Linked DNA regions of Homo sapiens: region 1 is linked to region 2. Evidence: fine-mapped expression QTL. A gene starts in region 2. The other region holds a variant in brackets. All regions are shown on one strand. Distances are between the middles of the regions.

The links. PIP is the estimated chance that this variant, and not a neighbour inherited with it, causes the effect. A credible set is the group of variants that fine-mapping cannot tell apart.
Region 1: its variant is the best candidate, but not a certain one, in a credible set for the expression of KCNA2 in whole blood (TOPMed, PIP 0.63).

Annotation. Positions count from the first base shown.
Region 1 is chr1:110,634,898-110,650,351 of GRCh38, reverse strand. No RefSeq gene overlaps it. Among named protein-coding and RNA genes, the nearest start is that of KCNA3, 32 kb to the left of the region's middle. RefSeq lists an enhancer at 15,430-15,454. The variant C/A (reference allele first, on the strand shown) is at 12,009.
Region 2 is chr1:110,601,993-110,609,992 of GRCh38, reverse strand. KCNA2 (potassium voltage-gated channel subfamily A member 2) reads left to right here and starts at 3,635. Exons shown (of 3, transcript NM_004974.4): 1 at 3,635-3,765; 2 at 4,271-4,602; 3 at 5,048-8,000. The coding sequence starts at 5,211. The coding sequence ends at 6,710.

The sequences.
Region 1 (15,454 bases), 37 kb before region 2:
GCATTATTATCAGAAAATCTTAAAGAAGAGCAGAAGAAAGCCCTTGTCGTTGTATTTGTCTTATACTTTGTTCACATTGGCGAGCCTAGTCCTGCCTCAGCAAGCCTCAAGATCCAATCCCCTTACCTTAAAGTGAGACACCAAGATAAATAAAAATCCAAGCTCTTCAGACTGAGTCAACCATCATTCCCTTTGTCTATTCATTTATTCTTTCAAAAATATTCGAGTATTTCTCCTTCTCACTTCAGTGGAAAAGTTTTCCCAATCTCTGGAGCTCCAGTCCATCCTGTTCAACCTCCTCCAGAACTTGACTGTATTAAATAACATCTGCCTTTTCCTTATCCTCAGTGTGTCCCCACCTCAGAATCTATGATCGGTGAATATGTTTCCTTGACCATTGTTAGCTCTATTTGCCCCCTTCCACTCAAAGCCAAACTTCTTAATAAGAAGTTGTCTCTACTTCCTGACCCCTCATTTATTTGACTTTCGGCTACAGTGTTATTCCTCTGTAATCTGGCTTTGGTCTCCACTTCTACACTGAACATTTCCTTAATACTAGTTTCTTTCTCATACATCAATTGTCAACCTCACCAACTCTGTAGAATTTGACACTGTTGATCCCTCCCTCCTTCTTGGCTTTTGTGACATTTTCTCTCAGTCACCTTCACTGACTTTTCTTTCTCTTATCACTTTTTAAATACTGCTGCTCCCCAAGATTCTGATCTCAAGCCTCACTTTTTCTGAGTCAACACTTTCCCTAGGTAATCTCATCCAATATCCTAGTTTTAACTACTTCCACAGATTTTTATCTCCAGCCCAGAGCTACAACCTGAGTGCTAGTCTTACCATATTTCAGGTACCAGTCACCTTCTCAGCCAATCATTTCTGCCCTGTTTACCTTTGAACCTGCCAACCCATAATCTAGAAGGGACAATCCTAAAACCCATGTCAGCCCATTCTCTGTCCACAGGTGGTCACCTAACTCAACTGGGCCAGGTGATTCTCTCTCCTTGGAATTTTGATTGAAACTTGGGGAGTTAGAAGTAGAAACAATTAGGCGAAGAGCTATGATGTTTTAGCAAGTTGAGCCAAAGTCAGCATCATAACAATCCTAAGTCCATGTAATTTATATTCTGGTGAAGTAGTAACTAAGCCTAGCAGAGAAGCAAGGAGAAGAATGAAACACAAAGCAAAACAATCACACTGCCCCAGTGAAAGATCAAAAGTAGCTACAGACTGTTTTCCAACACATGGGAGGCCCAACTCTACTCCCTGTCACTGGGTTCTATGAGATTCTTCTAAACCCTCCAACAAGCCATGATTGCATTAGCCAGCTTGATGGAGTCTTCTGACCCACACAGACAACTTATCTTTTGTGTACCAATCTCTTTGCCATAAATATCCTTTTGGATGGTCTCGAAACTATTCATGATACCTCAAACCCAACATGTCCAAGACAGAACAACTCATTTCCCACACTCAGCAATGTCATCCCAACTGTATTTCTTGTCTTTGGTAATCAAACCACCTCTCCTTAATGCTACTGTTTGGAAATCTGGGGACCAACTAATCTCAAACTTCTCCCTCACTCTTCACAGCTATTAAATTCTTGATGCAACTTTAGCTGCCTTCTTCACCTCTGAATTATTTTTGTATCTTATGATTTCTTGCCTATGTTACTAGAGTAGTCTTGTGAATTTTTCATACTGCAGACGAAGTGATCTCTGAGTCACAAATATGCTAATAACTCTCACAGCTAAAGTACTTCAATGACTCCTCCTTTATCCTTTTAGAATAAAGCCTAAACCTTTTAGTATGACATCCAAGGACCTTCACGGTCCAGCTTCTGTCTACCTTTCTAATTTCATCAATTATCACTCTCCAGTATGTCCTCCCTGCTCCAGTCACCCTGAATTACTGTGAATCCCTTATATACAGTATGCCCCCCCATATACCTTCACATTTGCTGATCTCTCTGCCCAGAAATATCATCACAACTTTATTTTTCTTCCCCACTTCACTCACCCACATTGTTCTTCTACTCAGCTGGATGATAGCTACTTATCTTCCAAGACTTACATTTTCTCCAGGAAGATTTCAGTTAAGTATCTATCTGATATTTTATATCAAGAGCCCTCCATCAAAGAACTTGACACAAAATATAACCATCTACTCTTTTGTTTCTTTTATAAAACTGTGAGTAACTTGAGAGCTGACTCTGTGTCCTTGTAATCTCTGTATTCACAGCGCTTGGTATATAGCGGATGCTCAATAAACATTTGTTGAATAAATAAGACACTGAGAAGATGTAACTTCTATCCTCAAATATCTCATAGAAATAGTGGGAAATGAGAACACCTATGATTATGGAACAGTGACAAGTTCTATACCAGGTAGGCTCAGGGAACTATGAGAAAGAAGGAAGATAAAATTAACTTAGCTCAGGGGCCTTCAGGAAATAAGAGAGGGATTTAGGCTTGATGACTAAGTAGGAAGGACTAAGCGAGGCCAATGAGATGGGGAAGGGTTTCTAGCTCCTTGTAGCCGGTGCCGGTCTACTTATCTTTTATAAGTTGCAAGAAATGTTGCACATTGATATACCACTGTTAAGAGGCTCTCAACACTAGATTGGTAAAACAAATGCAGTCTGAGGAAACTAGCTAATTGTCTCAGCAGTGGAAAACCCTTAAAAACGTTTCAAACTATTGCAGCACTTAAAACTATTTTGGGTTCAACATGACCTCAAATATGTCTCTCTCTTGGAAATTTTCCCTCTTAATTTTGAAACATGAGTAGTGTTGAGAAAATTAATCTGTACTTTCTAGTCAACCACACTTACCTCATCCAGTTGCCGTTTTAGAAGTGTTGTTTATTATTCCAGGAAACTTCAAGGTCCTTATTGTAAGCTTTTTGACTTAGAAACAGGAAATCAGATTTTATCTCAAGTGTAATTTTAAACCACAGTATTTAAACATTTCCAGTAGTTTCCAGACTTCATCAGAGGGCTACTTCAATCTCCAACCCTCTGAAGTATTCCACTCAGATAAGAACTCCTGTGTTTAAACTGTACTGGATTTGCCCATTTATATCTCTGTAGATCCCGGTCAGAATGTCTTCCAGTTCAAAAACATACACACATTCTCTCATTCTTACGGAATCTACTGGAAATTAACATACACAAGGCTGTGGGCATCAAACTTTAGATCATTATAATCATCAAGAACAATTGACTAACTTAGAGTAAGATTTTCATTGCTGATAATTCTAGGCAAAATTCTTACCAAAACTGAAAACATGAATTTTCCTAACTGCATTAATAGATAAAAATGTCAATTATTGGAAAGCAAACCACTAACTCCAAAGGTTGCAAATGGTCTCAATCCTTATTCATCATAATTCCTTTAGGTCTATTAAGGAGAAATTTAGGGAGCTAAAGAGTAAGATATAATTAATGTAACTTGGTGTTGGTGATTTATTCAGTGACAAATTATAAGGCTGCTACTATAACATGCTCCCATGAGCTTAAAAGGAACAAAGCTCTTCTGTTTTAAGGATAGGTTATGATAGCAATTCTCAGATAATTCTCATTTCATCTTTTCCCACTGGTTATCTGTCAACTGAGGAGCCTTTAATCTGGAATCCTATTGTGTAGTTGCTATTTGAAAAGTCTTTTAACATCTCCATGACCCCTAATGCTGCAGAAAAGCTTTGCATTTTGAAAGTGTATTCTTGTCCATCTTAGCCACACTCTCCCATCTCCCATCTGAGTTGTTACTGGTTGATTGAATTGGCATCTGCAAAGGCTGAAGGTGCCACTAAAAGGGCAATTCCCCCTCCACTGATGTCAACATATCTTGATCTGTGGGTCTTTTTGAGAGATGATACAGACCTTGCTTAATAATCTAATAGAAGTGACAATTTTTCAGTACTAGCCTAGAGATAATCCTGCCTGCAAAAAGAAGATGGATTACACGAATAGAAGTCTAAATCCAATTGTGATGGCCTTTCTAATAAAATGAGCATATACAGATGTCCTACCATGCTCTTTGAGTCATGGCTAATCCAGAATTTAAAGAGGAAGTCTACTTCACATTTCTTTCTCTAATTTCACATATTTCTTCACAGTTTGCCCAGTCCTCCAAAGAGAAGCTCACAGTCACTGAGATTTTTAAATCACATGACTCGTAATTGTGAGTCACTGGCTGATTAAGCCTATAAAGTAGCTAAACCTCTCATCTTCTAACATGAGCCTTTAATTCCTCCATTCGGAAGTGAGACTGCAGCTGTTGTATATCACCATTATTGTTAGTTCTTAAAAACATGTCAAAGGTTTTGTTTTGCTTTGTTTAAAAAAAAAGACTTAAATAAGATATTGACAGACATTTAGAGAGGGAAGCAATGCTTTCAAACAGGAGTTAAAATTTCAAGTTAATGTTTTAATAATTACGTCTTCTTTTGGCTCAGTTTCACTTGGATCTTAGTCCCACAATCATGTCTTCAAAATATTCTGAATAAATCACCACCCAAAAAAAAAAGCCTTAACTCTCATTCAGGAAAATGATGAGTTTTACTGGGTTCTAAAAATGTTTCAAGAACAAAATTAAGTGAGTAATCACATTTGACTTATAAAGCAAGAGTAGAGCCTGAATACAATGCAGTCAGGCACCTCTGAGCTTTCTGGCCAAAATAATAAAAATAAAAATAAAAAAAGTATATAGCCTTTCCTGACTTCTCTTGTTAAAATCTCAGAAAAAAGAAGTCTTCTGGCTTCCACTGGTGATTCTTAACCTCATTCTCTCATGAGGGCCCAGTTCTATTAGTATTGGGTAATTCCAATTGGGTAATAACTAAGAAATTGGAGAGCCCCTTCCACTCAACCCACACCTTTGTTTAAAAAGTGTCTTTAGGAAGAGCTGGCCCCAAAAACCTTAAACCTTGCTACTCAATGGTCCTCAGGGACCAGCAGCAGCAGCAGCATCTAAGAGCTTGATAGAAATGTAGAATCTCAGGCTCCACCCCCAACTCACTGAATTAGAATCTGAAGTGTAATAAACTTCCCAGGTGATTTATATGCACATGAAAGTTTAAGTAGCACTACTACCAGATCATTACTGTGTAACCTCACTCAGAGATTTTCCACCTGTGAGCCCTTTGAATGAATAAACAATGTAAGTTCAAATTAAGCTAAAATAATCTGCCTTGCTCCTATATAAAATTTGTTTTTAGAAAGTCCCAAAACATGATAAAGAATGAATATTTTCATTATTGAACACTAAGAATTTAAAAGCTACTCCTTCATTCTACTCTTCAATGTAGTCTAAATGTTTCATTCCATACAAAATAACCCCTCCTAACCTCCTCCACCGGGCCTATCCCTCAACAGCTATAAAACCTTGGTAAAACCTCACATTTGGAATAGTCTTCATGGATGTTAATAAGCTACTAAAATAATAATTCAAATGCCTATAACAAATGACGACAGACACTCTTTTAAGTCCTTGTCTATATTAATTTATTGGATCCTTAAAACAACCCTAAAAGATCAGTTCTATGTTTGTTTTTGTTTTTGAGACAGAATCTTGCTCTGTCACCCAGGCTCTTACTCTATCACCCAGGCTGGAGTGCAATGGAGCAATCTCAACTCACTGTACTCTCCGCCTCCCAGGCTCAAGCAATTCTCCTGCCTCAGCCTCCCAAGTAGCTGGGATTACAGGGACACGCCACTGCGCCCAGCTAAATTTTTTTGTATTTTTAGTAGAGATGGGGTTTCACCATGTTGCCCAGGCTGGTCTTGGACTCCTGACCTCAAGTGATCCACCCGCCTCAGCCTCCCAAAGTGCCCGGAATGCCATATTCAACATTTATATGGTATATTTTACAAGGATGGGGTTTCAGCCCTGTCAACTGAGGTTCTTCATATATGCAGGCCAAGCCCTTCATACATCTTAAACAATATCCTAAAGAACACATATGTCTCCCAAAGTGATTGCTCTGGAGGGCTTCCTCACTTCCTCACTGGAAAGCCATGTTTTAGTTATTAGTATTCTGGTCAGACAGAAAACCTCCCTTGCAGAGCTGCAGTGGAGGGGAATGCAGCTTTGTGCACTATAAATAGTAATTTTATTAAAATGTAGAAAAATTGTTGAGAAAGGAAAAAGAGGTGGGGGCAGAGGGTTGCCATGGCAACTCGACCATTCCTTCAGTTTTGAAAGCGTGGGGAAGACTACAGAATAGTAAATAAAGAAGAGGAAATAGAGGAAGTCGGAATGGCACATGATCACAAACGGAATGAGACAGCTCAGACAGCCTAGTCTCAAACTGAGTGCTGAGCTAAGAGGCAGAGGGTGGGCCTCCCAAGGGAAGAGGGGATGCCTTTCTTCAGAGAGCAAGAAGACTGGCAGAGTGAAATCTTTGTCATCAGCTTTACCTCATGGCTCAGCCACAGAGGCCACCAAACAACACAGCCCCCAACAAATGATTTATGGATAAATGAATATGGAAGCAAGAATCCTCCTGGTAGCCTCCCAAGAACTCCCTCCCTGCCCCCACCTCCATACATATTTTTAGATATTGGTTCTAGAATCTCCATTCTTCATCCCACTCCTCACTCCTGAATGTTGATTGACTCCAGGCAGATCGAGAAAGATCAGGACACACCAGAAATCCACCCATTTACAAGACATTAGATTAATTCACATGCTACAAATTCAAAATATATTATTAAAGGAAACTAGGATAAAAGGATAACCTTAATTCAGCACTTTACAGGTTACTGATCATTACACATTATCCCATGGGATGCATGGAACAGCCCCGGCAATCTGGGATTACTCCACCTTACAGTAGCCCAGGAAACTCTGTGCACAATTCAGACTGAAACAGAGCAACTAATATCTCCTGCATGCAAGAATTTTCCATCTCTCCTGGAGAATGGAATTACTATTGAAGGTTTAGAGGACTTTCAGTCTGTCTTGATCACACATTGTGACAGCTTAAACAATGCACTATCCCCATTAACACTTCAGTATTTGGGGGTGGGGGGTGAGGTGGGGTGGGAGGTGAGGGAGGAGGTGAGAGAGATCCATGTAAATACACATAAGCAGTTCTATGTCATTTCTGTTAATGGAGGGTAGATAAAGAAAAGATCATCCAGGAGTCATGTTTAAGGACTTTGTAATGCATCAAATATATTGGATTGTGTGGAGGCTACTCGCAGACATTTGGGGTAATTTTTAAAGCTTTAAAGGGATAGGAAGAGAAGCTAGTTAAAGAGAAAGCAGGCTGGGATTTAAAAATGTCCCATAGAACCTACAGATTACCGTGCCAGAGCAGCAACCATATTGCCTACATCTGGGAAACAGTGTTGACTCTAGTTCCCTCCCCCAGCTGGACAAACCTCATGCACAGGGCAGAGCTCAAGAACGCTCACATCATGGCTGATGGGATGGGCATTGCCAGAGAGAGAGCAGCTTCACTGGGCAGAGTCAGGGCCTCCTCAGACTGGGAGAAAATGAAAAATGAGATCAAAGGTTCTGGGTGAGGTTCTGGGTGAGGTTCTGGTGATCCACTTGATCACCAGATCCAGGGACGTTGTTCCTGAAGAGCATTCCCTGAAGCTGAACACTTGGGAAGTAAATTTAAAATGAATGAAAGGAGCTAAGTAGTCAGCATATGAAGTTTATTGCCCAAAATGTGTTACAGATTACAATGTAAACAGGTTCAAATCACCTTCAGGTGAATTCACATAGAACAAATCCAAAATAAAATATTAAAGAAAACTAGTATAAAAAGATAACCTCTGGCCGGGCACCATGGCTCACACCTGTAATCCCAGCACTTTGGGAGGCCAAGGCAAGTGAATCACCTGAGGTCAGGAGTTTAAGACCAGCTTGGTCATGGTGAAATTCCATCTCTACAAAAATACAAAAATTAGCCAGGCATGATGGTGGGTGCCTATAATCCCAGCTACTTGGGAGGCTGAGGCAGGAGAATCACTTGAACCCGGGAGGCAGAGGTTGCAGTGAGCCAACATAGTGCCATTGCACTCCAGCCTGGGTGACAGAGCGAGACTCCATCTCAAAAAAAAAAAAGATAACCTCTATTTAGCACATTCCAGGTTACCAAGTACTTAAATACATCTCCATAGACATTCAAAAAGGTAGACATTAGGCGATCATCACAGAGAAGAAAATTGAGACTTGGAGAAGACAGAACATGAATCCGAACTGTACACCAAATATTTTGGTCTGATATTCTCAGTATTCTTTGTGTTTACTGAGTTTGGGTGTGGGTAGGATAGAGAGTCCCTGATTAGGATGACTTAGCTACAAAGTCAAAATTAAAGAAATCTGTGGTTCTGGACTGTATATTTGCAGTTTTGACTGAAGGGTTTCATAAAGAGCACCAATGTTCACAACTGAGAATTGTGAAACCACAAGTTGCAGGGTTTCCTGTATTTAAGTCGACCATGCAGTGGTACCATGGAACCCATTTCTGCCAGTCATGAAATGCTGCCTTTCTCCTAGCATTATTACCATCTTCCCTCCCTACACACACACACACACACACACACACACACACACACACTCACAAATGCACTAAACCTCTCCTTTCTCTTCCCTTTTCTCTTTTGTTTAGTCACACACGATCTTTCACTTCTACTTCAGTTGCATTTATCCACTCAATGCAAGTATTTGAGCATCCATCCAGCTAAATCTCAGGGCCCAGAATGCCAAACTGTTCCCTCCAAGACTGCACTACCGACAGCCGAGAAAAGCTAATAGTGATGATAGTTAATACTTACTCAGCACCTACTCACAATGCACAAGGCACTGGGATAATAACTCCTTTGCATTCAGATTCCTCAATAGCTCACTCAGTCCTTACAACAATGCAAAAACCTTGAAAAGTGTTACTATCCCCATTATACGATGAGAATGTGAAGCAGAGGGGTCATAACTCACAGGAAGTCGTGTGGCTAGTGATGGTGCAGTTGGAGAAGTGCGTGCTTCTCCTCCTTCATAACCATTGCCTACCCAACATTTTAAATATATTTGATATTGTCTAAATTGTTTTCCTTAAGAATAAATGTTTTATATTGACATATTTTAACTGACTCATATTTGGTTCATAATCAGGCAATTCTATTTTATAAACAGTCTCAATCTTTGTTTTCTTACTGATCCATTTATATACACCCTCTCACACTCCGCATTTCTGCTACTAATACCAATTTCTTTTTTTCTTTTTTCTTTCTTTCTTTTTTTTTTTTTTTTTTTTTTTGAGACAGTATCTCGCCCTGTCACCCAGGCTGGAATGCAATGGCACCATCTTGGCACACTCCAACCTCCACCTCCCAGGTTCAAATGATTCTCCTGCCTCAGCCTCACGAGTAGCTGGGATTACAGGAGCCCGCCACCACGTCCAGCTAATTTTTGTATTTTTAGTAGAGACAGAGTTTCACCATGTTAGCCAGGCTGGTCTCCAACTCGTGAGTTTGTGATCTGCCCGCCTCGGCTTCCCAAAGTGCTGGGATTACAGGCGTGAGCCACCTCACCTGGACCAACTTCTTAATATTCTGGCTTCTCGCAGCCATCTAGCCTCTTTCTCTAGTTCTCTTTTCTGATCTTAATTCATGCATTAGGAAGATAGGCAGGACTGAATGCGCTTGGTATCTCATCTCTTCCCTTAATTCTACAAAGCCTCTCAGGTCTTCCCACAACCCTTTGCTCTACCATGCTCTCTCACTCTGCCCATCCCAGAACTCTATGCAGATGGCTCTTCCAGGTCACCAGCAGCCCAAAAGTAGCCTTTCCTTGGGTCTTACCTCCTTGACTTCTCCATCTTTTGGCATCCATCACACTGAACTGCCTTGCTTCTCCTCAGTAGCAATTATTCCTCTTCAGTCTTCTTCAAGGCTCCTCTCAGCTGCCTTTCCCCTCCATGTCCTGTCTCCCAGGCTCAGCCCTTAGTCCTTCTTACTTCTCCTATAATTTCTTCTCAGGCCATCATATACATTCCCATAGTTTAACTCTATTTGCCACTAACTCCCAAATCCATATCTCTATTCTTAGCCTCTCTCGCTTTAGCTCCTCCATTTCCAACAATCTGCCAGTCATTGCCACCAGGATGACTCACTGGAACTTCCCATCCAGACTGTCCAAGTAAAGCATTTTCTTTCTCCAGTGATTTGGCCCTTTCTTCTGACTTCCCTATCTCTAGCAGATACCATCATGCAGATAGTCACCCAGGCAAAACAAACAAACAAATGAACAAAAGTTGTCGTCTTTCATCCCTCCATCTTCCTCACTTACTGTAGTCTACTAGTTTTAAAATATAAAAAGATTCTACTCCTGTTCAGAAAGCCTTCAGTGGCCTTCCATTATCTGTTGATGAAGTGCCAACTCACCCTGCCTTTGCATCCCACACTTTCCAGTGATAGCCCAACACCCTTTCTCACCCAAGCTTCCTCCAACCAAAATAGACTCTGTCCTGTTCTCAAATATATGCCAAGCTTTTCTGCCTTTCTGTTCTGATGTATGCTGTCCCTGATATCTTCTTCTCCAACACTCAAAAGGACTTTCCTCTCTTCTTACAACTTAGGGTCTTCCTGAGTATTTGTGATATTTATCATGTTCTACTCCTTGTTTTTATCTGTCTGTTCCACCTCCTGAGGTAGAGGATGGGCTCCATACTTGAAGCACCTGTTTCCCCACCACACTTACATACCTTGTGCACAGCAGATCCTCATTATACTTTTGATGAATTGAATTCAGTTGGGGCTCAGCAGCTGTGTAAGAAGAACCAAGTTTCCAGGACCCTCTCCTCTCCTGAAACCAGGCAGATATTCTATTACTTGTCCCACTTTCTCATCTTAAAAATGGGCCTCTGTTTTTCCCTTATGGTCTGAACATCTACCGTTTACCTCTGCAAGCAGTGAAAAGTGGTCAGATCTTTGGAACAATAGTCATAGCTACTGAGCACTGCCCATGTGCCAGACACTGTTTGAAGCGCATACATGTTTTAACTTCTTTAAACCTCTCAGCAAACTTGTGAAATAGACACTGAAATTCCCATTTTACAGATGAGGAAACTGAAGCACAGACAGGTTAAGTGGCATGTCTAAGCATAAACAGCTAGTATGGAGGGAACCAGATTCTCAGGCAGGCCCCTGGCTCCAGGGCCTATGCTCCCACCATTTTGCTATAAGGAAATGCAGATTTGAAAAGAGGAGATTTTACTTGTAGGTCTTGATGACCCCAATCCCAAAACCCAGAGCCTGGTTTGGTCTTCACAGGTTTGACCTAATGTGTACATATGTGTATCTGATTGTGAGTGTATGTGCAGTGGAATTAGGGGAGAGCCACCTGTCTTTGCACTCTGCTCTTTAGCTGGTGTTGTTGTGTTTGACGTTATTTCCCCAACACAAGCTTCCTGGAAGAAGACGGTATCTTCCATGATTTTACTCTCCCACTGGAGTCTGATCTAGCGCTTGTCATCTAGCAAGCGACCCACAAGTTTAAGGCTGAATCACATTTTCACATATAAAGTCAGTGCCCAAGCCATGTCTCTCATTTGAAGCTTCTGTTGTCTGCCCCCACTTCTCCCAGCCTCCTGACACACACCCACTCTCTCACAGAGCAGGTGCACTTCAGCAGAATGTAAGCAAATCAGTGCTGAATGTCAAAACGGATTTTACTCAATTATTAAATTGCGAGAACCAGGAGAAGAGCAAATAAATATCCCAACAAAGTTATGCTATGAAATATGTGAAACCCACCCAGATCTAATATTTAATTTAGACTCAACTGTCTCAACAGCTTTCTACCATCCCAGATTCCAGCCAAAGGCCATCAGACATGGCTTGGGGTGAAAACTCGGTAGCTATACAGGCCTAATGCAAAGACCAAGGCTGAATGATGGGCCACCCCTCAGGGACAGGTGCCCACAGGCCAGAGGCTGAAAAGCTTCTCCAAAGATGCCAATTAGCTCAAGCACAAGAACCAAAG[C/A]CTGAGCTCTGACATCTGCATAAGTCAGGCTGCTGGGAGCTTTGCCTAATGATTCTGCAAGAAGAGGGGCTCTGAACCAGCATCTGCCTCCTGCTGCCCAGCTTCCTCAGCCAGCCAGAAGGGAGATACAAGCACCACCTAGTGCTGAGGTAAGGGGACCGGTCATTGACAGCTGCTCACTGGCTGTGATGATATTTTAAGTATCAAGGCTACAGTGAATGCCGAAGAGGAGAGGGGAGGGAGAATAGAGGAGTGGAGAAGCAGCAGGGGAAATAGATTCAGAGCATGAATTCCCAGCTCATTCAACTCACCCCACTGCACCCACCAGTCCTCAGCACTGGTGTCATAGCACCATCCTCAGAGGCCAGGAGGCTGGCTTCCTGCAGCCTCCAGGCCTGGTGAGCCCTCCCTCTCCCCCAAGCTTTTTCCCAGCCTGTCTGGCAGACATGCGGCATGTACTGCTGTGCTCACGGCCAGTAGACCCCTGCTTCCCCTCCTGTAGTGGCTCTCTGAGAATAAGGATGTGTCTGCCCTTGGCTCAGCATCTCAAGCACATAAAGCAGATTCTGCTTCCAGAACCAGAAAATACATGACAGTTCAAGACACAGAACTGACTCTCTCAGTCACTCCATGCCGCTCCAGCAGAGGGCTTCTCAGGGGCCAATGGAAACCAGCCACCAAAGGCTGTCTCATCAGGCTGAGTCCAGACCACCCGAAGGGAACCCATACCACCCAGGCCCCACCCAGGGGCAGACCCAGGACCCAGGCAGGTCCTGAAGTGCTGGACCACTCTGTCACAGAGCCAAAGTATGGGTATGGGTTTAGCTGTCTCCCATGGCTGCTCAGCCTGCAGAGCCTACTGAAGGGCCTATCCAGCTACCAAGGGAGGACATGCTGCCAGTGAGCTCCAAGGAGCCCTGCAGCAGAGCAGGAAGGGGCAGGGGAATGCTCCCACCCACCATCAGCTAGGGCTGGAACTCCAACTCACTCTGAGCACACTGCAGCCTCCCAAGTGGATGTAGGTTACTCTGGATGTAGGTTACTCCAGGTGACACATTCTTTTCTACAAAATTTCTTTCCAGATCAAATCTAATTTTATTTTATTTTTATTTTATTTTACTTATTTTTGAGACACAAAATATTTTACTTATTTTTGAGACAGTGTGTTGCCCACACTGGAGTGCAGAAGTGCCATCACGGTTCACTGCAGTCTCGACCTCCCTGGGCTCAGGTAATCCTCCCACCTCAGCCTCCCAAGAAGCTGGGAATACAGGCATGGACCACCATGCCTGGCTAATTTGGGGTTTTTTTGGTTGTTGTTTTTTTGGGGTTTTTTTTTGTTTGTTTGTTTGTTTTTTTGTGGAGACAGGGTTTTGCCATGTTGCACAAGCTGGTCTCAAACTCCTGGGCTCAAGCAATCTGCCTGCCTTGGTCTCCCAAAGCACTGGGATTACAGACATGAGCTACCACACCTGGCCTCAAATTTGATTTTAATGAGCATCAAGAGAAGCTCTACACCAACACCTTTGACTTGGTCATTGGGAAGGGCCCAAGGAGTACTGCTGCATGGCCCACTTATTTCAGAGTTCTTGGTGGCTGTCCCTCCTCTGTAGTCCTGGCTACCACCAGGTCATGCAGCCCCTCTGCAGGCCCAGCATTGGTGATAGAGCTCCCAAGGCTACCTCCTCCACTGTTGGACAGCATTTCACCAGCTAAGAGTTGGTGAGCGCTCATGGTGTGCTTCCCTCCTTGCCAGCCATTTTCCAGGAGTTCTTTAACTCATGGTAAGTATTATTATTATTCTCATATTCAGATAAGGAAACTGTGGCTTAGAGAAATTGACTCCTTTCTTTAAGGTCACAATAACTTAAAATTGGCAAAGCCAGGTTACAAACCCTGGGTTCTTAACTAGAAAAGGGTTGCAAACTACAATACCTGCAGACACCTGGGAATCAGCGAAACTGTGCAAATGTAAGAAAGGTGGAGGAAGTAGCACTTGTGAAAAACCACAGTGCATCTGCTTTATTCAGAAGAGGCAGCTGCCACCCACGTACCATTTATTGTTACATGAGAGAGTAGGAACTTGGGTGATCAGATCCTCCGATTTTTAAAAAGAGGCTATCCATATAGATTTGTAAGCATAATCTCCCAATTTGTGCTGATGACTGATGCAAGTTTTTTAAATCCCAGGGCAGAGCAGGCCAACACCAAGTGGGTTGCAGACCCACATCTGTGAGCAGGATTCAGGGTGGTGCCCATTGTGACTCTACTCTAGAGTCCAAGATCTTAACCATTAGACTTTACTGTCTTAAAATATCAGCTAGCTTTATCTCTGGTGAGTCACAATTTTTCTTCCTATTATCTCCATCTATTGGCCTCAGTTCTGTCATCTAGAGCAACAGGGATTCAAAAAACACTAGCCTCCTATGCCCTTTTCTAGGCTAAACATCCCCAGCCCCATAAGCATCCCCATTTTGGCTTGGTTGCAGGACCTTTACCATGCAGGCCCCATGATTCTAGGCACGCTCCAGACACACTCCCACCAGCTCACAGGACTCCCCACATCCACTGTGGAACTAAGTCCTACCCATCATGTCTGGTCTGTGTCAAGCAGAGCAAAGCAGGCTTCTAGCCCACTAGGACTCATCTGAGACTAGAACCCAAAGTCACCTGGCCTCCTTGGCAGCTAAGAATTTGCCTTAGTTTAATTGAAGAGATACTGACCCCCCAAACCCAGTGGGAGGCTTCTTGGCCTCTGCAGTGATTGTCAATTTGTGGGAAGTGACATCCCAAACACCAGCACTTTCCCATCATTGTCCTGATGGTCCACCCCTATCCTTGCAGGGACTGTTCCAGGGTCAGCCCTTTAACACCCATGGTTTTCAGGCCCACACCTGACCGATCTTCCCTTCTGAGAAGACAGCCATGACACCAAGAATCCCTCTTCTTATAAAACAAATCTCAAGCTCCTTCCAGTATCTCTGTCTCAATGTTGAGAGATTTTCCCACGATTCATCAGACCCACTCTAAGATTCACCCCCATTTCCTGATTCTCACTGTCCAGAAAATGCCATGTGCCAGACTATGAACCTGGCTGTAGCCACCTGTGGATCAGAAAAAAAAAAAAAAAAAGGGCGATGAGTCAAAGTAAGGATCCAGAGGGTCAGAGAAGTATCCCTGGTGGCTTAGCCAAAACCTCCACACCCAACAGCTATGGGCTTCACCATCTGAGTACCTCTTTTGATTCCAGTCCCACTCTCAACTTCCCTCATGAAATGAAGAACTGCAAATACGGTAACCTGCTATGGAAACTGAGAAAAGCAAAGCAGCCTATCTTTTATTCTCGCTCTGCCTTCTGGTCCTTCCCCGGGGCCACTGGGGCTGGAGCTGAGCCGAGCAGCTGGGTTTTCCCCTGAGCAGTGACTCACAGATGTAGTTTCTCTGGC
Region 2 (8,000 bases):
CTGTCCATTCTTTATAGCTAATTTTGTCCTTACTACCCTGTAAAGTAGCTTTGCTCTCCCATTCGACCAACTAGGAAACGAACAGTAGGAGGCTCAGAGAGTGTCAGTAACTTGCTCAAGTTCATACAGCTAGCAAGTGTTAGTGCCGGGAATACGGCCTGTGTTCTTTTCCTATACAGCACTGCCAAACCAAGGTACTGACAGACACTTTTCAGGGCAGAAGCCCTGAAATGTGCCTAAACAACTGTTATGATGGTTCTTTTTTTTCCCCCTTCTTTAGTTAATTTCTTTTTTTGTCATTGTTCACATTTAAGTTTAAAGGATAGAGACAGGACAACATACCCCTGAGGCCAAGTCACAAAATAGAAGCAGAGGTCAGAGGAAGATCTCAAAGAGGGAAATGAAATTCAAGAGCTGCTCATTCCACCTGCACAGTGTGGTGTGGGGGCTAAGGGCACATGTCCTAGAATCACAAAGACCTAATTCCAGTCCTAGAGTCACCATTTATTAACCTCAGGCAGGTGATTTCACCTCTCACTGCCTCCATTTCCTTTCCAATGAAATGGTACTAATGTATACATTGACTTCTAGGGCTGTGAGAATTAAATGTTGCCCTGGGTAAGAAGTGCTTAGCACAGGGTCTGACACATGGTAAGCCCATGTCACCAATTATGACGATTGATTTTCCTTCAAGGGCTTTTCTCTGTCCACAGCTTCTGTTTTCAAGAAGGAAGGCAAAGGAAATGTATACATATGATCAGATGGATAGAGTATCTGACTTTGGCCACACAGGATTATCTGACTTTAAATGACACGAGAACCCAGTGTGCCAAATAGGAGAAACAGAGCCCCTTGGTGCTGGTCAGGGGAGGCTTTCAGAAGGAGTATATAGGGAAGGGAACTGGAGGTCAATTTGGTAGAGGGGTGGGAATGGTGAGATCTCAAGGAAAGTAAAGGGCGGGGCAATCTGGGAAGCAGAGGGAATGGGGCAACAAGGACCTGGTGATTGGGAGCCTAGAGAAACACCCCAGAGCTAAGCTGGAAGCTAAGAGCTATGAGGAGAGTTTCACAAGGAAGCAGAGCAGCGAAATCATCATGCATTCAGTGTCTGCTGGATGCTAAACTCATTCAACAATTAAAACCTCACCACACCCTTAGGGGCATCCTGATTTTTCAGAGGAGGGCACTGGTGCCCAGAGAAGTGAAATAACTTATCTAGTAACTGTTAGGGAGTTACGTTTCCATCTGACTGCCTCCAAAACACCCAAGCCGTTCACTGACTGGGACACTAACAGGCCAGGTTCAAGGTGCTCTAAACCATACCAGCCCTTCTCTATAGTCATCTGTCATCCTTTGGGCCCACGGAGGTCACTGCCCTCCCAGACCACCCCCTGCAGCTCTAGGCAGGCTCCCAGTCTTCAACCACACCTCACAGACTACCACGATGAAACGCCAGAATCCGGAGTCCCGCTTCATGGGCTTTCAGGGCTCTCCCCACGAGGTACACGCATAGAGAGGAGGGTTTCCCGGCCGGAGGGTAGGGGGGAGGGCCCAGTGGGGACTTCCTGGTGCTAGAGCCCATCTGAATCCAGAGCTCCGTGTCTACCGCAGTCTTATCTCAAGGAACCACCACTGTTTGGCACACCTGTCTAGGTGACCCTGACAGGGACCTGGAGAACAGAACTAGCAGGGGCTTGAGGCTGTCGTCTGCCTCCCAAAAGCACCCTGGACCTTCTCGGATGCCCTATCTAGGCAGAAAGTAGGCTGTGCCTCCCACACACATTTCCCGAAAGCAAAGGGCATCCTCGTCTGCCCACCTAGGGTGCTGTAAGCTGCACTCCTAAGTTCAGAGCCCTGTGGGCCACCTGGCTTTGCAAGTTCTGCCAGAGGGCCCGTTTTGTGAGTAGCTGACCATTCCCAAGGGCAGCGGCGTGTCCCCCAGCCTTCCCTGCCCGGGCCCTGGGGGAGGGAGTCGGGGAGTGGAGAGGGCCAGCCCTGCAGTGCTGCCTGTTCCTGCGGCTCCTCTCGGTGGGGGCGAACACAGCAGAAGAGTTTCTGCCACACTGCGGACCGCACCTGCTGCATTTCCCTGCGAAGCCAAATCTTTGCTGGGTAACAGGGAGGTGGGAAGCCGATCTGGAGAAGGGGTCGCGCTGGCGGGAGAAAGGGCAAGAAAGGGGTCTGCAGATCCTGTCTGGAGGCACCACAATAATAGCAACACGTCTCTCCCGGGGCTGGATCCCGCTGTGGGCCTGGGGTAGCTGCTATTGATTATCTCCTCCTTGCCTACTTCATTACGTTGGCAGGAGCCTCTCACCAGTGCCCCTCAACTTCTGCCCTCCCCCATCTCCCCGGCCCGGCAGCACCCAGCTGAGCTCTCCTGGAGGTTCTGGTTAGTAAGTCGGGCTCTGCCAAAGAATGTTTTCCTCGCGGGGCGGGGGCTGAGGCCCGGGGGCCCAACGAGGTGACGAGCTCGGTGGCGGCGGAGGGCAGCTTGTCGCCCCGGCCCCGGCCCCGGCCCCCGCCGGCCCCTTTAATTCGAGTTCGCCGTCGAGCCAGGTGCGGCGCTGCGTGGCGCGGTGCGGCTGCGGGCGGCGGCCGGGAGCTCCGTACGCGCCGCCCGCGGGACTGCAGAGCCGGCTCCCGGCTGGCCGCCCGCACCCCGCCGCCGCCCGCTGCCGGGGTTCTGCCGGCGCTGGCCGTAACCTAGGAACATGGAGGCCCCGGTGCCCATCCGGAAGGGTAAATCCGTGTCGGGGCGTTGCGCGGCGCGTGCTGCCTTCCCTGCCCGGCTGCGGCGCCCAGAGGGGCTGCGGGGCACCCGGCGGCGCAGCCTGCAGCGCAGCAGGCTTGGGCTGAGTCCGCGGCGGCAAGCCCTTGCCGACCACTGCCGTCTGCTCGGCAGGTCCCAGACCGGGGAGATCAAGGGGAACTTGCACCCTGCTCAAGAAGAGTGCACAGAATGGGCTCGGGACCCTCTGGGGTTTGCGTGGCGCGGGGCGGAGGGCACGGAGAGGAGCTGGTGGGTGGTGGGAAGTGCAGCTGGCAGCATAACCATGTCTGGTAAATAGCGCGGGTTGGTAGGACCTGAACCACTTGGGACGGCCGGGCTGCATTCGCCTCTTCGGCACAGAATAACAAACGGCTTTGCTGCAGAGAGGGCTTTCCCCTTCGCTGGGGCCGTGGGCTGCCGCCGAGCCCCCGCGCTTAAAAGGAAGCTGAGATCTGGGGCGGCAGCCTGGCGCAGGCTACTCCCCACCCCCAGAGATCAGGTTCCGGGATTTTGGGTTGGACACTGAGCCTCGGCGGTCCCTCGGCTGGACGCCGGGGGCTTAAGAGCTGAACTGCGCTTGGGCCCGCAGCAGGAGCCGACCGCGCGGGCAGGAGGGGGTTAAGGTGGCGCTAGCGGCCGCGGCCAGCGGGAGGGTCTGGTCCTCTGCGCGGAGGCGAGCGCTGAGTGCGCCGAACGGAATCCCGGCCGGAGCCCGGGGCGATGGGGAGAGGGCCCAGACCCCTCCCCGCCCTGGGGCCGGCGGGATTGGGTCGGCAGGGGGCCAGTCCGGAAGCCGGCTTCCTCCAGGCTCCCCCTCTCGCTGCTGCCAAGCCGCCTCGCAGCTAGGCAGGCGGAGCGTTTATTCTGTGCTCCCTGCCGAGGAGATGTGAGGGATTTTCTCTTGGGGGAGAAATCAGTGGTCGAGCGCCTGCCCAGCTCAAATGCCACCCGGCTCAGAGGGAGGCCTGCGGCCCAGGGATCCCGGAGGGAGAGTAAGTTCATCCAGTTTTCGTACAGTGCAGACTTTGTTGTGTGGGGTCTCCCTAGATGCGCTCTGAAGGAGTGTGTGTGCTGGGGGGTGGGGTGCTTCTTTTCCAGGACTGGCTGAGGTCAGAGCTTGTAGACAGGCTGCAGTGAGCTAAGCCCTCCTCTTGGGAGCTGCTGTGTCCTGACATGTGGGGGTAGGAGTGCTTCTTCCAGAGTCCTTCCTGAGAGCAGCTGGGGACTAGCAACCTGGATCAACCCAGGGAGGCCCCTGGAGAAGGCAGGCCCAGCCAAGCCTGAGTCTTGCTCCCTGGGAGAAAATGCTTCAAGCTGATGGGAAGCCTGCCCAGAAGAGGCAAGGAGGCTGAGGGATAGTCCTCAGGCCTGGCATCAGAATAGAGGATGGGCATGGGGGCCTGTTACCTCCCATGAGGGAAGCTGCCAGACCCTCCTAAATCTTGGCACCAGCTGGTTCAAATGCCCTGGTTCCACCTTGCTGCTGTTTTTTTCCAGGCAACGTCACACCTCCTGAGGACAGCCAGGACTCCAGCTTTTGCTGAGCTTTGCATCTTGCCTCCTTCCTTCAAAAGGCTCCAGGCCCATGCTCGGCTGTCTTCAAGTCCCGCATGCCCCTGGCCAGGCACCTCACCGCCCCTCCAGCCCAGCCCAATCCTAGAGCTCACCTCCAGGACCCAGAGTCTGCCCTTCTGCCCAGAATGACTCACCATTATTTCTAGCTCGAGTGAGAAGACGTGATGAGGAGTTGGGCTGCCTGTTGGTGCATCTCAGATTCCTGCAGCATCTGATCAGCTCTGCAAGGAAGAGAGCTTCACGTCTCTGGTCAGGTAAATCAATCTATCATTTAATAACAGCCTTGTGTAGAATCACTGGGGTGGAGGCCAATGAGAAAGACCCAGGCCCAAGCTCCCCAACCATGAATACCTCCCTGGGTATGAGTATCTGAGACATTAGTGCAGCACCTGGGAGAGGGTCCACTTTTAACCTATTAGCATGGGGTTATGCTCCATGAAGCCTGTGTGCTACAAGCGGGCCTGTACCAGCCACCTTCCCCCAATGCAGGGCATTCCAGAGGTTCCTGGAGAGATTGCTACCTGCTCCCCCTGATCCCCAGACAAGTTACAAGGTGAAAGTAAATTTTGCTTTGTCGTTGTGGTGGTGGTGATCATGTGTCTGAACTCTTGGCTGAGAGATGGGAGACAAAAAGTGGCAACCCAGGTCAGGCTGCCAATGCTGAGTAGCCTCATGTCAATAACTGCCTCTGTCTTTCAGCCAAGCGAGGCTGTCTCTCCAGCTCTCAGAGAGCTCTCGGGGCTCTCCTGCAGGAGACCAGGCCAATGCTCCTGTGCTTCCTGGGGCCAGTAGCAGCACCCTGAGCTCCCTGCCACCAGGCAGCTGAAAGGCATAGCGTGAGGTGCTTCTCTCAGTCCCAATTATGACAGTGGCCACCGGAGACCCAGCAGACGAGGCTGCTGCCCTCCCTGGGCACCCACAGGACACCTATGACCCAGAGGCAGACCACGAGTGCTGTGAGAGGGTGGTGATCAACATCTCAGGGCTGCGGTTTGAGACCCAGCTAAAGACCTTAGCCCAGTTTCCAGAGACCCTCTTAGGGGACCCAAAGAAACGAATGAGGTACTTTGACCCCCTCCGAAATGAGTACTTTTTCGATCGGAACCGCCCTAGCTTTGATGCCATTTTGTACTACTACCAGTCAGGGGGCCGATTGAGGCGACCTGTGAATGTGCCCTTAGATATATTCTCTGAAGAAATTCGGTTTTATGAGCTGGGAGAAGAAGCGATGGAGATGTTTCGGGAAGATGAAGGCTACATCAAGGAGGAAGAGCGTCCTCTGCCTGAAAATGAGTTTCAGAGACAAGTGTGGCTTCTCTTTGAATACCCAGAGAGCTCAGGGCCTGCCAGGATTATAGCTATTGTGTCTGTCATGGTGATTCTGATCTCAATTGTCAGCTTCTGTCTGGAAACATTGCCCATCTTCCGGGATGAGAATGAAGACATGCATGGTAGTGGGGTGACCTTCCACACCTATTCCAACAGCACCATCGGGTACCAGCAGTCCACTTCCTTCACAGACCCTTTCTTCATTGTAGAGACACTCTGCATCATCTGGTTCTCCTTTGAATTCTTGGTGAGGTTCTTTGCCTGTCCCAGCAAAGCCGGCTTCTTCACCAACATCATGAACATCATTGACATTGTGGCCATCATCCCCTACTTCATCACCCTGGGGACAGAGTTGGCTGAGAAGCCAGAGGACGCTCAGCAAGGCCAGCAGGCCATGTCACTGGCCATCCTCCGTGTCATCCGGTTGGTAAGAGTCTTTAGGATTTTCAAGTTGTCCAGACACTCCAAAGGTCTCCAGATTCTAGGTCAGACCCTCAAAGCCAGCATGAGAGAATTGGGCCTCCTGATATTCTTTCTCTTCATAGGGGTCATCCTTTTCTCTAGTGCTGTGTATTTTGCAGAGGCCGATGAGCGAGAGTCCCAGTTCCCCAGCATCCCAGATGCCTTCTGGTGGGCAGTCGTCTCCATGACAACTGTAGGCTATGGAGACATGGTTCCGACTACCATTGGGGGAAAGATAGTGGGTTCCCTATGTGCGATTGCAGGTGTGTTAACTATTGCCTTACCGGTCCCTGTCATTGTGTCCAATTTCAACTACTTCTACCACCGGGAGACAGAGGGAGAGGAACAGGCCCAATACTTGCAAGTGACAAGCTGTCCAAAGATCCCATCCTCCCCTGACCTAAAGAAAAGTAGAAGTGCCTCTACCATTAGTAAGTCTGATTACATGGAGATCCAGGAGGGTGTAAATAACAGTAATGAGGACTTTAGAGAGGAAAACTTGAAAACAGCCAACTGTACCTTGGCTAACACAAACTATGTGAATATTACCAAAATGTTAACTGATGTCTGATTGAAACCTATTACCGTACTCACAGCTCAATGGAACTAATGCAGATGTTGCATAATAGCCTGCATTGTAGTCAGTGTGTTCTACAGTGTGTATCTGGTTCTGCATGGAAAGCAATAGTTGTGCAAGTGACTTTTGATCTTTTGACTTTTGATTTAGAACACAGAATATCTATCATGGCTTTCATGCACATCCTCATCACCGGCTTATGAACTTCCAAAGACGGGAGTCACCTATCAAGCTAGGATTTCAGATAGACACGTTGAGGCCACCTCATATCCCATACACAGTGCACCATATCAGTGCCATCATTCCTTCCTAATGAAATGCACACAACATCCAAGAGATGCACTCCCCTCCCCACCATCCCACCACCTTATTTGAGCCCACCTGCCCTTTCACAGAGGAACACAATCATGGCTTAGCTTTAAATAGCTGGTGTTTGTTCAAAAGGTCATACTCATTTTTGCATTGAAAAGAACACACAGTCCTGTGTGTTGGAATTACTTTCTGTGTCACAGGCTGGAGTTTGTGAATTGCAGTTGCCAAGTAGATGCTCTGGAGGCTTGTGTTTCATAACGGAAAATGCTGCATTCTGCTTTTTCTCTGCAGTGTCGATGTGAGGGAAGCCCGGGGGAGGGACAGTTAGTATGACCGAATATGAGTTGTCAAGTTTCACATTTGTTCCCTTAGGCCTATGGGGAGAAGCTAACAAACCAACAGACCTCTAAGCCTCTGATTTCACCATTTTTGCAGGCTCCAGGGTCACAAAAACATGTCTGGTTTCTTACTGGAGTTTGCAGACATCTGCTTTCCCACTGATGTGGCCCAGCTACACTGACACTGCAGTGAAATTTACCAGTGATGCAATAGAGCTGCATGGGTGTTTGTTGCATGAATCTCAATATTTAAAACACAGGAGATAACCTATTTTCCTAGTAGCCTACACAGTGTTAATATTTAGAGTATTAATAGGCTTGGAATGGTCTTGAACTAGGGGTTTTTTTCCCATCAGAAGGCAAAAATCCCTCCATCAGGGGAAAAAAAATAGACTATTTGGAATGGAACTAAAACTTCTGGCCCCCCAGCCTACCTATCCCTGTTCTTCTAAACAGGAACGCAGACCTCTGCAAAGCCAGAAGAGTAAGCGGGGAAGGCAGCATCTGAACACCTCACATGACTGCACCTTAGGAATTAACCTAGTCGCGGGCATGACTGTACAGTGGACCAGGGCATCTGGTCCTGATGACAGGCAGGTCTGTGGATCCAGTGTATATAAATATATATCGAGTA